Homo sapiens: one gene and its partner. The protein of the gene in region 1 interacts with the protein of each later gene in a pairwise test. Each region holds a gene or a part of one and is shown in the gene's direction. Other genes may lie near its edges. The genes, in order: PAQR6 and RNF144A.

Region 1 (7,883 bases):
TTGTCATCATCCCAAGGACAGGTAAGTACATTGGAGAGGTAAGGAGACAGAGTATGACTAAAAGAGATTCTGGGCTTGGGATTAAGAGACCTTATTTGGGGCCCAGTTTATATGCAGTAACCTTGGTCAAGTCTTACTACCTTTGTGAACCCGTCACTTCATCTGTGAAATGGACATAATCCCTATTCTGCCTTACAAGACAGTTGGGAGAAACAGAAAATGTAAGTGAATATAATGAGAAAGCACTTGGTAAATTGCCAAGTATATTGCTGGCAGAAGGTCATGTTTTCAGAGAACTTTGGGAGCCCTCTAGGGAGCCAGGGTCCCTTCTCTGCCTGAAGAGTGTACTGAGGTGAGCTCAGATACTTCCTCCAGAGCCCCTTGTCACAGCAGTCTGAGCTTATCTGTTTTGTCTTTCCCTACCTTGCCCACCAGTGATCGATGGCCTGGATTTGCTGAAGAAGGAACACCCAGGGGCCCGGGATGGGATTCGGTACCTGGAGGCAGAGTTTAAAAAAGGAAACAGGTGAGTGTGGCCTGGCTGGACCTGTGCTGAGCCCTGGGTCTGTCTTTTGGATAACACATGCTTATGAAAGCCCCTTGCTCCCTATGGGTAAGACACATACATACCCGTCTCTACTCACAGTTAGCTCACCTCACTGCCTGGGGAGTGATACCAGAGATAATTAGAAGTCAAGGTTGTAGCTGCTGAAATAGAGGGTGACCAAAGGGATCAGGAGCCCTGTGGGGAGCACTGAGCTGCTGTCCTTCCTCTGGGGCAAGCCTGTGATCAGCACCCACTGGGGAGAAGGGAGCAGACCTCCCTCCCCCAACTTTAGACTGTGAACTCCTTTATAGGAATTTCTCCTGCTTTGGGGTTGGGACAGGTGATCAGGTTTCTCAGAGTGTGAGGGCCTCATCCAGGCTGCCCAGGGGCTTCCCACCTCCCTGCTGAGCTGAGGGAGTGGTAAGACCGAAGCCAGCCAGGGAGGGGCAGCTGGCAGCATGTGCAGATGCTCAGCCGGTACAGGCCTGCCCTTCTGGCCTTTGGGGCTGGAGGAGAACTAGGCAGAGGGTGTAGGGAATAAGGAGAAAGCTTCCCTCTCCCTGCTAGCTGGCCCACCCCCTCCTCTGCATCTGCTCTGGCTGGCCAGGAAGCTGCACAAGGTCTGATTGTTCGGACCTTGTCTCCAGAAGCCCTGACTTGAAAAGCATCTGCTGCTTCTCCCCTCCCAGCTCCTCCCCTGAGAGGAACCAAATAATTGATGTTATCAGGAGGAAAAGTGAGCTGGGCCCAGCAGCCAGGAAGCCACTTAAGAATGGCTCCAGAGCTGTGGTGGGAGAGACATGTTCCCCAGCCCCGCCTGCAAAACCAGGCCCCCAGAGCCACAACAGACTGCTTTGTGTAAGGCACCCTGCCAGTCTCCTGCTCCTGACCTCCACTCGCACATCTCCTCTGCAGGTACATTCGCTGCCAGAAAGAGGTGGGAAAGAGCTTTGAGCGGCATAAGCTGAAGAGGCAGGATGCAGATGCCTGGTAACATTTTAGCCCTCACCCCTAGAACCTCAGGCCACCTGCCTTGCTCCTCCACGAGCATTCCTAGGGAGAACGGGTAGGGCTGGATAATTCTGAGGCTCCACACGTAGCCTGCCAGGGCCCTCCTGCAGGCCTCACCTTGCGAGGAGTACGAAGTTGCCGCAGCACCTGAGCTTTTCCTCTGCAGATGGGTCAGCCTCTTTGGGCCTTGCGATGCTCAGGCTTGGTGTTTTCCCTCAATGCACCTTTGCCTGCTCCCCATATGTCTCCAGGGCCAGCTTCCAGGGCCCACTGCTGCTCACTGCCCTCCCAGCCCCCAGCTGCCCCTGTCCCCTGGAGATCCTGGTGTTTGGGCTGTGCTAATGCTGGGTCTTGGCCCATCTTCCCCTCTGCCCCCCATCCCCAGGACTCTCTATAAGATCCTAGACAGCTGCAAACAGCTGACTCTGGCCCAGGGGGCAGGTGAGGAGGATCCGAGTGGCATGGTGACCATCATCACAGGCCTTCCACTGGACAACCCCAGCGTGCTTTCAGGCCCCATGCAGGTGGGTCATGGGTGAGGTGGGGGGATGGTGTGGAATAGGGACGAGGTACCAGAGCAGACTCCATCCCCAGACCCTCCACATAGCTACCTTTTTTTCTCTTCCATCACTCCTTCCCCAGCGCCTCAACAATTTGCTCTTCAGTTCAGGAGGTCAGACCCTCTCCATCTTTCCTTCTCCCATTCCACAGGCAGCCCTGCAGGCCGCTGCCCACGCCAGTGTGGACATCAAGAATGTTCTGGACTTCTACAAGCAGTGGAAGGAAATTGGTTGATACTGACCCCCAGGCCCTGCAGTGGGGCTGACTCCAGATCTCTCCTGCCCTCCCTGGCAGCCAGGACCAGCACCTGTAGTCACCCCACCACACGCAGACTCATGCACGCACACAGGAGGGAGGCCTAGCTGCTCAGAGGCTGCAGGGAGGGCCCAGGAGCCGGCTGGGAGGGTGGGGTCCCTTTGTTGCCAAGACGTTAGGAAAGCGAGGAAAGTGCTTGGATTAGGAGAGTCTTGTGGGCCCCTGGCCAGCCTTCCTGCCTCAGCTCCCCTGCTGTCTCCAGGGGCAGGTGGTAGGCATGGGTACCTGCATTTCACTGGAATGGGTTCTTGGATCTCTGAGGGGAAGGAACAGCAAAAGAGGCCCTTCTTCCTCACCCAAGATGCAGGGTGGTTGGGGCCAGGAGTTTGGACCCTCTAGGTCTTGGGGGAAGAGCTGGGTAATACCTGGTGTCTGAGTGATTCTCTGCAGACCCTTCCCCTCCTCAAGGATCACCCATCCTCCTTTCAGCCCCCTTTATGGGGACCAGGCAGCTCTGGAGCCAGCCACAGGGGCTGTTAGAGAAGCAAGGCCTGGAGTGGCCTGCACCGAGTAGCAGGGTCAGGGTTCGTGTGCTCCTCCTCCTGCTGCAGGGGCTGCACATCCCATTGCCCCACTTCTGCTTTGTGTCTCCCTCTGTCTAGCTTCCAGGGCAGGGAGCAGGCCCCACCTAGGGCTGCAGGCAGTCTGGCCTGTGCCAGCACGGTCTCCTGTGCCCACCAGCCCCACAGGTGCTGTGCTTTGTGCTCTTGGCTGCTGTGCTGGGACAGAATGGGATGCCAGGAAGAGAAGAAAGGGGGTGCAGTCTGAGGCCACCACCCCCCTTCCTATCTAAGGGAGGGCTGAAGACAAGGGGCCGGCATTCAGTGGGCAGCAGAAAGGAGAGGCTCCTTGAAGCTGCTCAGTCAGAGGCCCCCGTCCCTCCTTTTGCCTTCCGCAGGACTGAAGACCTGAAGGGGCTGGCTTTTGGAGTGTTGAGGTGAATATCTGGGAGCAGAGATCATGAATAGCTCAGGGCAGTGAATGGCGCACCAAGAGCAGGGCTGTGTGTGGGAGGCTGCAGCCAGGATTGCCTCAGCTCCTCCCCCTCAGGCTGGGAGGATAGCACAGGCTAGGGGCTCGGGGTGGAGGGTCTCAGCTCTGCTGCCCCCACCCCAGTACTAGCCTAGCTTCCCAAGCTGTGGCTTAGAGGATAGTTGGCTTCCTGCCTCTCTCCTCTAAAATAGCAAGTCTGGGAAATCCTGGGGTGAGTGGAGTCACCCCACTCCCAGTTGCTGGCAGAGACTGAGACTAAAGCATCACTTAATAAACCCCCCAAGCCCAATCCCTGTCTCCTGGTGCCTGTCTGTACAGAAGTTTCATTGGGGGGTGGGGCACTGAAGATGGCATCCTGAAATGCATTTTGGAAAGGCTTCTTTGAAGTGGATGGAACAGAACAAGAAGCAGGCAATTTGAGTGAAGGCCCTGGAGATGGTTTGATAGGCACTGTCAAGTTCCTTGACTGTAAACTGAGGCGGTGCCTTTGCAGGGGTGATAGTGAAAATCTCTTGCCAGCAACATCGCTGCCTGGGGTTGGTTCGCTGTCACTAGCTGGGTCCTCTTCCCCAAGGGGGTGGGGAGGTGAGCCTTGAAACCAGCCTCTGGCCAGGCGTAGTGGCTCACGCCTGTAATCCCAGCACTGGGAGGCTGAGGCGGGTGGATCACAAGGTCAGATCGAGACCATCCTGGCTAACACGGTGAAACCCCATCTCTACTAAAAATACAAAAAAAAATTAGCTGGGCATGGTGGCGGGTGCCTGTAGTCCCAGCTACTCGGGAGGCTGAGGCAGGAGAATGGCGTGAACCCGGGAGGCGAAGCTTGCAGTGAGCCAATATCGCGCCACTGCACTCCAGCTTGGGTGACAGAGCGAGACTCCACCTTAAAAAAAAAAAAAAAAAAACCAGCCTCTGAGTCCTCAAGTGCCTGTCCTGCAAGGATTGGCATCTCAAATTGTATTCGGGGGGGGGGGGGGGGGGAGGGGGAGGTGGTGAGCCTGGTGAATCCCCCATGATAGAACCAACATTTACCAAAGGCAGTTTGCTCTGAGCCCTAGGCAGCACCAGGTGCTAAGAGGCAGCAAAGCATGGTGAGAGATGGCTTCTGAAATCTGTTCTGCATTTGGGGATTTGGGTTCCTCTGCCAGCCTAAGGCAGAGCTGTCCCCAACTGCTGGGAGAACCTGGAACGGGAACACTGCTCTGAGTCGCCGGGGGGACTCTACAGCACCATGGCCACATCCTGCCTTGGGCCCCTACCCTGTTCTAGCCAGTCAGCACAGGGAGTTTGGGTCGTGCTGGAGGAGCTGGCTGTGTGCAGGCGGCCGAGTGAGCTGCCTGCTAATGGGGCTGGGCCACCCCGTGCTGCTCCCTGGAGGCTGGACAAGGCTGGGATTGTTCCCTGGCTCCCCTTTGTCTCCCCACTCCCCGCCCAGGCCTGGCCCGCCTGCCTGGCCACTCTTCCTCCATCAGCCTGGCTGGCAGCAGCCTTGGACTCCGCCCGTGGAGCCCTGGGCCTGTTGACCCACCAGCTTAGGAGCACCCACCAAGCTCTGGGTAAGGAAGCTCACCTTCTGGGGCTCTTCTGGGAAAATAGAGGTAAAGCATCTTGCTCCAGCCACCCCTCCCCCATTTCCATAGCAACTGCACACACTCCACTCCAGAGATCTCCAAACCCTACTACTAAGGGAAGGCACCGTGAGGGCAGCTAGACCCCAGCGTATTCCTCACTCCTCCCCCAGATAGATGGGCAGCACTCAGGGTAGGGGAGACCCCCGACCATCCCACTTGTGGGAGCGAGCAAGGGATACCCTGGGAGGCCCTCATCCATCTTTGTTCTGCTGGGGTGCAGGGACTAGGGCCAGGTTTGCCTTTGCCCAGCAGGGTCTCCAGCACCCATCTCGGGCAGAGGCTGGGGGAGTGACTGCTGGTGCAAGCCCCAAAGTGCATGCGGCAAAAACATGGATGCAGAGCTGGTGGCAAGAAGAGGGGCTAAGTTATAGAGTTGCTGCAAAGTTTTGGCCTGGGGAGGTGGGGGGAGTGTCCTAGTCCTCCTCCTGGGGCGGCTCCGCCTGCCCAGCTGGCCCAGCCCCTCCACTTGTGCCAAGGAATGTGCCGGGAGAGGCGGGCGGGGCAGCAGAGCTGCGGCCACCCGGAGGCAGTGCACAGGTCTGGGGCTGAGGGATACCTGGGCTCAGGAGGGGCAGGGACCCCAAAATTCTCCTGGGGGCACAAGTGTAGTCCTCAGAGAAAAGCCAGGCATCCCCCTACCTCCTTGTCCCACCTGATGGCATCTGGCTTCTCCAGAGATTCGGAGTGCCAAGAGTGTTCTGTGCTCAGTTCAGGCGCTGTGGGCGAAGCACATTCTGGTGGGAAAGGGAGTGGTACTCAGGCTGTCTCTGTGCTGGCCTCCAGGAGTCAGGATTCTTCCTGAGACAAAAACTGGGGCCTGCGGGGCTGGATCACTATTTGAGGCAGCCTCCCGGCTGGGAGGACCCCGCCACTCTTTGCTGGGCTGAGGCCGCCAAGCCCCTCAGTGTGGGGACTGAATGCCCCAAGGAGAACAGGGGTTGGAGTTAAGTGGTGCAAGGGCTGGGGAAGGTGGACCAGCTTCCCCAGGCCTGAAGGAAGCAGCTCCAGGAGGGAGGGTGCCATCTGCCTCCCACACGCACAGCCCATCCTGCGGCTGAACCCAGGTGAAAGGGGCCTGTGGATGGGGGCAGTTATCTGATCCCCTACCTCCCACTCTGTCTCTAGGTCAACGTGGAGGTACCAGGCCACCATGCTCAGTCTCAAGCTGCCCCAACTTCTTCAAGTCCACCAGGTCCCCCGGGTGAGGGGCTCCACCCACTGACCCACCAACCCCCATTCCCTAGAGGACTGACTAGGGGCTGACGTTCTTCTCTTTTAGCTATTGGGGCAGCCCCTCCTGCAGGCGAACTCTTACCCTCCCATTCCAGTGTGAGACTCTTCCTCTGTTCTCTGAGGAACAAGCTTGTGGCCCTCCATCTGGAGTCCCCTTCCCCAGAGCGCCCTGTGTGCTGCGCTCCACCCCCATCCCACCCCAATCTGGCTCTTCGGTTTCCTATTTGTTTTGTGGGTTGTGGGTACTGGGACCTGTGGTAACATCAGATCAGATTTAGTTTGGCTTGGGGGCCACGTTGATCTCCAGCCCAGCCTCTTTGACCCTGCTTCCAGAGATCTCAGATGGAGGGAAAGGGTCCGGGCACAGTGACGCCCTTCCTCTCCCACCACTACCCTAGGTGTTCTGGGAAGATGGCATCATGTCTGGCTACCGCCGCCCCACCAGCTCGGCTTTGGACTGTGTCCTCAGCTCCTTCCAGATGACCAACGAGACGGTCAACATCTGGACTCACTTCCTGCCCACCTGGTGAGGGGAGGCTCCGCCCCAGGCCGCGGCCTTGAGCTCAGAGGGGGTACCCAGGCGGGCAGGGACCGTCCAGGCCCACGGGCTGCAGCGGCAGTCGCGGGGGTCCGCGGCGGCCTGAGCACGCGCCCGCCGCAGGTACTTCCTGTGGCGGCTCCTGGCGCTGGCGGGCGGCCCCGGCTTCCGTGCGGAGCCGTACCACTGGCCGCTGCTGGTCTTCCTGCTGCCCGCCTGCCTCTACCCCTTCGCGTCGTGCTGCGCGCACACCTTCAGCTCCATGTCGCCCCGCATGCGCCACATCTGCTACTTCCTCGACTACGGCGCGCTCAGCCTCTACAGTCTGGGTGAGCCGGACAGGCGCGGGAGCGCGGGGTCTGGGCGTCCCGGAGCGGGGCGAGGGGTGGGACGCGGGACATAGGGGCGCGCCCCTCAGGCCTCAGCTGCACGCCCCCACCTCACCGCAGGCTGCGCCTTCCCCTATGCCGCCTACTCCATGCCGGCCTCCTGGCTGCACGGCCACCTGCACCAGTTCTTTGTGCCTGCCGCCGCACTCAACTCCTTCCTGTGCACCGGCCTCTCCTGCTACTCCCGGTGGGTTCCCAGGCCCCTCCAGTGGGGACGGGGAAGGCGGAGGCACAGGAGAGGACACACCTCACTGCTCTCGAACAGCACTGGAGGCATCGGGACCATGTACTGAGGACTTCCTCTGTCAGACCCTTTATCCCCACATACAGATGTGGTCCTTTACACAGGAGGTCATATGCCCTAACGGTTTTCTTAGCTGCAGGCTGTGCTGATATTCCATCTTTGCCCAAGTCCTCTTGCCTTTCTCTGACCCCTACCCCAAGCACAGCGATGGTGACCGGCCTTTTCCTCCCGCCTCCCAGTTTCCTGGAGCTGGAAAGCCCTGGGCTCAGTAAGGTCCTCCGCACAGGAGCCTTCGCCTATCCATTCCTGTTCGACAACCTCCCACTCTTTTATCGGGTAAGGAGGCCTAGGGCCCCTGCCCAGACTCCTGCTTTCCTGTCCTGACCCTCAAGGTGCCCACTTCCAGCCCTGCCCCCTCAGT
Region 2 (7,512 bases), on another chromosome or scaffold:
GAAGCTCCTACTGCACAGGAGAGGTGGGGACAGCAGTGAGACGGAAGGGTCCCTAGCAGGCAGCGCTGCCCTTCTGGATCTAGCCTCAGAGCTATATCGGGAGGAGAGCAAAGAGCGGGTGAGGATTTCTCTTCCCGCGCAGCGTGTTGTTTAGTGCACACAGCACTTGCACCCTCCCGCAGGGCTGGGCAGACATGGGCCTCCTATCTCATCAGGGACAAAGCTGGGCTCACCCCACAGCACTCACAGAGGGCAGGCAGAGAGTTGTCGGAGGCATCGCGGGGACGGGATGGGAGCATGACCCAGGCCAGCTGCCTTTAGCCTTTGGCGTTTCCTCCTCACTGCTCAGCGTGGCGCTCAGTGCCCCAGGCTGGCATGTGCACCCCCTCCTTGCTTTGCTGTGACTGTCAGCTCAGGGGAGCCCCAGGCATCTGCCCCCACACATGTGACCCACAGACAACAACTGCGTTTTCTCAAAAAGCCATTTTGTCAGACCTGACAGCTAGGAACATTCTTAGAAAAGCAAATGTGGAAACTATCAACAAATAAGAGAAGAGCTAATTTTGTCCATTCATTCAGTATGAGGAGCATCCTGGGGATTTTAGATTATTATAATGAAGATAATTAGAGTAGAGCACCTGTTCCTGACCTCCAGCGTTCCTTGTTATTATCAAGTTCTTCTTAATCTTCTGCCACCCCTAACATTCTGACAGTTTTGTGCTGTTGATTAATTCATGCTTAAAAAAAAAAAGGCAGAGGGCAGCCAGATGAGATCAAGGGTCAGCCAGCCATGGCTAGTGGGCCAAATCCAGTCCCGCCGGTGGCCTGCTGCTGTCAAGTTTTGCTAGAACATTCATTTCCAGATCACTGTGTCTGCTTTTATGCAACAGCAAAGCCCAGTAGCTGCGACAGAAACCCAGAAACAACATGGTCCTCAGACTTAGATGATGACTATCCGACCCTCTGCAGAGGAAGTTTGCCAGCCCCTGGATTAGATGACTAGATCATTTCAAAGCTAGACCCTACACAAGATGGTTTCTGGAGAGCTGAATCTGGCTTCCCCATGTATTTGGGGAACATGGTAAACACACAGAGCCTTACACATACGTATGCGTGTGCACCGTCAGGACACCCAGTGGGTGATTTGTCATTAACTTCCTGCTGGTCCCGTGGCAATGCGTGTAGGTGAAGTCCCGGTCCACGTGCGGCGCCAGCATGTTGTGGATTCCAGTGAGTAGGAATCCCATGTGTGACACAGGCGAGCGGGAGCTGCCCGGCGGCCAGTCACAGGGCCCAGACATTTGCAAGGACTTGTCATCGCCTTTCAAGTCGTCTCTGAAACTCAGTTGTCCTGACTACTTCCCAAGAAGAGCCCCGCTGAAAACTTAGAAACCAGTGGCCTACCAGAACGCCTTTGGAAATAGCCCACATTGCACTGGCCTGGGAGAGCTTTCTGGCAGAGCCTTGCTGCTCCCTGGGGTGGCCACTGATCGAGAATTCGGCATCATGCTGGACAAGAGGGAAGATGAAATGAACAACCAGTCTTCCTACAAAGGGCAGCCAATAATTTAAAGAAATGCAATTTTTGGACAAGGATGTGAAGAAATAGATGTGTCAAAGTGTCTTGTTTTTAGAAATAAACTTTGTGGCTAATTCCATTAAATTGGGCTTCTTAGAAATGTGTGCTGTGATTTGGAGAGAAAATCTGGCCCTTGAAGGATTGGTTTCACTCCGTAGTTAACTCGTGGCTTGGATTTGAGAAGGGGAGGCCATCTTAGGCAGGTGAACCATTTGGTTAGAAGAACAATCCAGCCATCTTCCTTCCCTCTTCCTCTCGGTCTTCTAGCAGCATTTTCCTGGTGCTGGCTGTATGCCCAACATGGGGCCATCAGGGGTCCAGCTTCAGAAAACTGTCCCCTAGGGGAGGCAGATGAGCTAGCGCCATGTGCATTGCTCAGAGAAACCCGACAGGCAGGTGGGCCAAGCTTTCCAGGATGTGGAGGCCTTTGAGCTGTGAGCTGAGTGTCAGAGGCAAGCAGGGCTGACCCAGGGCTCCAAGGGCATTCCAGGGGCAGGAGCAGCATTCCTGAGGGATGTCTGGGTGTCTGGAGGTCTGTTGCATGAAGGGAGAAGTTGGGAAGAGCTACAGCGGAGGTGGAGGTGGAAGGGTGGCTTGGGCGGTGCTTCGGTTGGGGCTGGTGGTGCTGGCTGTATTACCTGGACATGTTCCTCCCTGTCCGTGCACTGAGGGGCTCCTTCCTCTGAAGCCCACATGACCCTCTGGCTTAAGTTTGATTTGTCCATTTTGTCTCACTGTACCAGAGGTGCTGTTTGATCCCTGTCGGACTTGGTGCCCGGCGTCCACCTGCCAAGCTGTGTGTCAGCTCCAGGACGTGGGGCTGCAGACCCCCCAGCCAGTGCAGTGCAAAGCCTGCCGTATGGAATTCTGCTCCACCTGCAAAGCCAGCTGGCACCCTGGCCAGGGCTGCCCGGAGACCATGCCGATCACCTTCCTCCCCGGGGAGACCAGGTACCCTTTGTACACAAGCTGCCACCAAAGGCATGGCTGTGGGCCAGGAGAAGCAGGCATGCTTTCTTCCTAAAAGTGCTGTTACAGTGTAAGTGGCTGTGGCTCAGTCAACCCTAACACACACTGTACCTCTTGAGCCTCACTCAAGCCTGTCATTATTTGTATGTCTATTTATTTTTGAGAACTGACTATGTACCAGGCACTGTGTGAGGCCCTGGAAATAGAAAGGTGTGTGAGAACCACACTTAACACGGCTTGGCTGGAATGACAAATGCATGCGTGGTTTGTTACTTTTAAAGGTTGCAAGTCCTGCAGTACCTGAAGTTTCTGCAAGACTTCACTGTGTTGAAGGTGATCTGAAATGGGGGTACAGAAACAAGAACAGGAGTAGGGTGCACTGGTCATAAATACTGTCTGGAGGGGGATGGGGAGACACTCCCTGGTGGCGGCCTCCCCTGCAGCCATAGTCGGGCTGTTTGCCCAGGAGAATGCTGCCGCACCACGCTCTGTACTTTGACATTTCGTAGGTTGATGCATAGGAAATTCATCATATCCAGGTCTTTTTCTCCTACAAAATCTACAAGGTCACGTGGTTCTGCTGGACACTTGCCCCTGCTCCTGTTGAGTCCAGGATCCTCATAGAGGAGCTGCCACTCTACCCACCACCCTCCCCAGGGTGTGCTCACCAGCTGCTCCCTGTGCGCCCCTTTTCCCATTCCACCGTCCCCAGCTCCTGTTCCTTTCCGTGTGACCCCTGTGCCCTGTTCTAGCCCCCGACCCTCTCAGGGTCCCTGCCACACACCCCTGGTCTCCTTCCGGGCGAACCTCTCTTCCCGTGTCTGGAGTGCCCTGCTCTGCCCTCCTCCTTTCCCTGGGGGCTCCTGCCACACTTCAGGTGGGGATCACATCCCTTTGTCAAGCTTCATGGTTCCGAGGACAGGGTTGGGGCCTCCACCCTCTGTGTTCCCCCTGAGATTCTCTGCATTGATTACAACCCTGGACATATTGGATTTGAGTTCTTGCGTTGACAAGGCCGATTCTGCCATCAGGATGAGCTCCTGACACACAGGGCCTGGGCCTTTCTGAGCAGCCTGCATCAGGCAGGCAGCTGCAAGCACGAACCACTTGTACTTATACTTCACGTGTACTTGGCATCTTAGGGGCTTCAAAACTTTAGATGGAGGCTGGTGAGTGTTTGGAGCCTGATGACTTAGTTTTCTTTATCTGTGACATTCTAGTCTCATTTAAATTATTGTCCAAAGATGATCTAAATCAAAATTCAGAAATCTCATTTTGTGGAAATTTTTAAATCAGAAGATGTCACATAAAAACTGGAATTTCTGGCTTCTCTGGGAAATCCGAATCCTAAGCCTCTCCGAGGCTGCCTCCCCATGCTGGCAGCCAGCGTAGCAGAGCCCCAGCTCTTGCTGGAGGCGCCTCCTGGGCCAAAGCCCCACAGTCCTCACTACTCCTTGTCCCCTGGAACTGAGGCTGCCTGTCAGCTGCCATTTATAACTGAGAAGACACTAAGCTATTTTTTGTATTGGAGGGTTTGTTGTTGTTGTTGTTTTTGGTTAAATCTTCTCCTCAACCATGTTTTTATCCAGCCCCTGACCACTTCACTCATTAGCATCACCTGCGCACCTCTTCAAGCTGCTGGGCCACGTGTAGATTGTGATTAAACTGTCCAAACTCCTCTCTGCTTTTATAATTTGAGTTTACAGTAAATGTTGTTAGTAATAATTTTAAATCCAATTCAGATACTAAGAAATATTTGAAAACCATTGTCTATTCCATGCAAAATTTTATGCATAGCACAGTACACCAGAACTTTCATATTTTAACGGTTTTCATTTTGAAATGTCTCCCCAGGAGACACTGTACACGCTGTTCCTGCCGTTTCTTCCAAAATCAGCTTGTGAGTCACATGAGAAAATTGGTTTCTTAGCTTTAAGGTCACACCTGGCTTTCAAACCAAAACAATGTTATCTAACCTAAAACCCAACCTTGATCACCAGATCCGGTGTCTCATGACTTCCAGCTTTTTGCAAAATCAAAGTCATTCTCAGAAGGAGGCCAGGCCTAAGGTTTACTCGGAGCTGGCTCTGTGCTGGATCCCTCTGGAGACATTTGCACATATGCTATCTCGTTTGCTCCTTGCAACAACCTTAGTTCATTCTTTATCACATTCTGCATGACCAGGTTGGTCTGCAGTTTGCTTTTAAATTGGAAGCATTTGAGCTAGTGACAGTTGTGTTATCTTTCAGTAACAGTTGTTAATAATAACTACTGTTTATTGAGTGCCTGGTACTTATGTGCTGGATTTTGTGCTTAACATGTTAACATGTGCAACCTCTGTAATCCTCACAACCGTCTGTAGAGATCGATGCTATTAGCCTTATTCATCTGGTTTGCAGATGAGACACGTAACACATAAATCGCACAGCTAGGATCTGTCTGTCTCAAGACTCTGTGCTCCTAATTAGGAGGACATACTGCTTCTCTCATTATTTCTTACTCTGTTGCCTTCTACTAATGGACCAAACAGTCACGTTCAGTTGGAATGTGCACCCCAAGTGGAGGATTGTTCACTGCCAATCATCAGACAGCTCCTACTAAAGTGAAACTACATTTAATGCTCATATTGACTGGAAGCTTGTGAGAGATCCTTCAGCCAGAATGCACTCAAAAAGCCAGAATTTGCTCAACTGCCGTGAATATATACCCATACATGTGTTAAATTCTGAAAAAGCTGCCCCGAGAAGGAGGGATGCATTTTCTCCTGCTGATGTTTGTTTGATATAGTGAGTTCCAACAATATAGCAAATGGACCCCCATAATCAGTGATAACTCCTCTTAACAGTTTATCATTTATTCCTTCAGATGCTTTTCTGAATATTCTTACCCATCTTTTAAAAATTAACAGCATGGGGTGAGTCATACCTAATGTCTGTGTTATCTTTCTTTAGCAACATTGAACTACTGCTACCCTTTATCAAGCACTTCATAAAAGCTGCACCCTGCGCTGTGCTCTTGGCACACGGAATCTTTTCTCATGGTCACACTGATGAGAAAACTAGGGCTTGGAGGGTTGCTCCACAGCTGGTTTGTAGCAGACCCAGCTCTGACCTCAGCTTAAAGCCCTTCTTGCTAACCCTGCAGACCTAGCCAACTTCTGAGGAAAACAATTCTGTAAGAAGAGCCAGGTGGATCTATCTCAAGTAAACAGTGTGTGTTTGTGTGTGTGTATTTGCAACATTTATTTATTTTTCTTATAACAGCAAAGTACATAAAATTTATATCAACCCTTTGGAAAGTAGACAGCTCTGTGAATAAGGATACAATATTTGACCTTAACACTATGATTCAGATACCTCCGTTATAATAAGCCTTTCGCTGTATTTTCTTTTGTTTGTATACATATATCTCTAAATTTAGATATGTGTTGATGTTGCTGTAATTTTTTAAAAATTTTTCCTAACTCAAAGTGGCTGATTCACAGTGTTCTGGTTAATTTTTTTTTTCTGGAGTTTCTGTTTCTTTGTTTTTTGGTTTTTGTTTTGTTTTTTCATTTAATACCAAGAAAACTCAGTCTGTGAAGTGGAGCCGATGCTTCCAGCATAGCCAGTGCTCCTGGGTCTCCCGTGGGATCCGTTTGTGCAGAGTCCTCACGGCGTTTCTCCCACAGTGCTGCTTTCAAAATGGAAGAAGATGACGCGCCCATCAAGCGCTGCCCCAAGTGCAAAGTCTACATCGAGCGAGACGAAGGCTGCGCGCAGATGATGTGCAAGAACTGCAAGCACGCCTTCTGCTGGTACTGCCTGGAGTCTCTGGACGTGAGTACGGCCTTCAGCTTCACCTTGCGGCATTTAGCTTTGAGGTTTAGATTTGGAATGAGAAAAATAGACCAGCTGTTTCCTAAAGAGCTTGGTGCCTACTCCTGTGTAACAGTGAAGCAACACCGTTTGGTGTTTCTCCTGGGTTTGTGAAAACATTAACTCATGAGCGCCATGGGGACAGAAGCCTTTGTGACTCGTATAGTCCTGGGGTCTAAACACTTCATGCAGGTTCAGGATCCAGCCTGGGATTTAAAGGGGTTTTAGCATCTTAGGTTTTGTCTAAGCGGGGACTGTCATTGTCAGTTTGGGCTGCTGTGACATAATATCATAGATGAGGCAGGTTAAATGACAGACATTTATTCCTCATGGTTCTGGGGGCTGGAAATCCAAAATCAGGGTACACCAGATTTGGCTCCGGGGTTCCTGATCAGGACTCCTTCCTGGTGTTCAGGATAGTGAGGACAGACAGAAGTGGGGGCTGGGGGGCTGTTGGGCTTGGGGCCAGTCTTAAGACTTCATTGACACTCACATCATCTACAGGGCGGGAAAACGTGCAAGCCCTTTGCTCTCTGGCAGAATGGAAGTTCTGGTCTCATACGGCAGCCTTCTCCTAAGTATGCTCTGCTTCAGTGTTTCTCAAACACACCCTACCGTGTGTGCCTGCAAGAGCCATGTCCCTGACGGGAGGGCACAATCTCCCAGGCCCACACGTCTCTGGAGCTTTGAGGCCTGATGCACAGGTTGCTGCTATTTAGCTTCTCATTCTCCTTCCTTGCCCATATTAGGGCGTGGGCATCTTGCCAAAATGATGAAGCTATGATTTTAGTTTTAGAATAATTTATTGATGCATACTTTTTTAAGAACTATAATTAGGCCAGCCTCGGTGGCTCACGCCTATATTCCCAGCACTTTGGGAGGCCGAGGTGGTCAGATTACCTGCGGTCAGGAGTTCAAGACCAGCCTGGGCAACATGGTGAAACCCTGTCTCTACTAAAAATACAAATTATCCAGTCATGGTGGCATGCACCTGTAGTCCCAGCTACATGGGAGACTGAGGCACAAGAATTGCTTGAACCTGGGAGGCGCAGGTTGCAGTGAGCTGAGATGGCACCACTGCACTCCAGCCTCGGCAACAGAGTGAGA

Evidence for each region.
Region 2: the proteins of PAQR6 (region 1) and RNF144A interact in binary tests that used the Homo sapiens proteins (3 or more experiments, as listed by UniProt).

The regions. Positions count from the first base shown.
Region 1 is NC_000001.11:156,245,057-156,252,939, reverse strand, and holds the start of PAQR6 (membrane progestin receptor delta), read left to right. Parts: upstream 1-4,883; 5' UTR 4,884-4,983; exon of another isoform or gene 4,984-5,025; intron 5,026-5,307; exon of another isoform or gene 5,308-5,430; intron 5,431-6,183; 5' UTR 6,184-6,208; coding exon 6,209-6,259; intron 6,260-6,689; coding exon 6,690-6,817; exon of another isoform or gene 6,818-6,952; coding exon 6,953-7,158; intron 7,159-7,278; coding exon 7,279-7,405; intron 7,406-7,701; coding exon 7,702-7,798; intron 7,799-7,883. Other genes in the region: nonsense-mediated mRNA decay factor SMG5, read left to right, coding at 1-21, 436-526, 1,463-1,537, 1,944-2,082, 2,270-2,353. UniProt on the Homo sapiens protein: Plasma membrane progesterone (P4) receptor coupled to G proteins. Seems to act through a G(s) mediated pathway. Involved in neurosteroid inhibition of apoptosis. May be involved in regulating rapid P4 signaling in the nervous system.
Region 2 is NC_000002.12:7,018,151-7,025,662, forward strand, and holds part of RNF144A (E3 ubiquitin-protein ligase RNF144A), read left to right. Parts: intron 1-2,322; coding exon 2,323-2,530; intron 2,531-6,218; coding exon 6,219-6,366; intron 6,367-7,512. UniProt on the Homo sapiens protein: E3 ubiquitin-protein ligase which accepts ubiquitin from E2 ubiquitin-conjugating enzymes UBE2L3 and UBE2L6 in the form of a thioester and then directly transfers the ubiquitin to targeted substrates.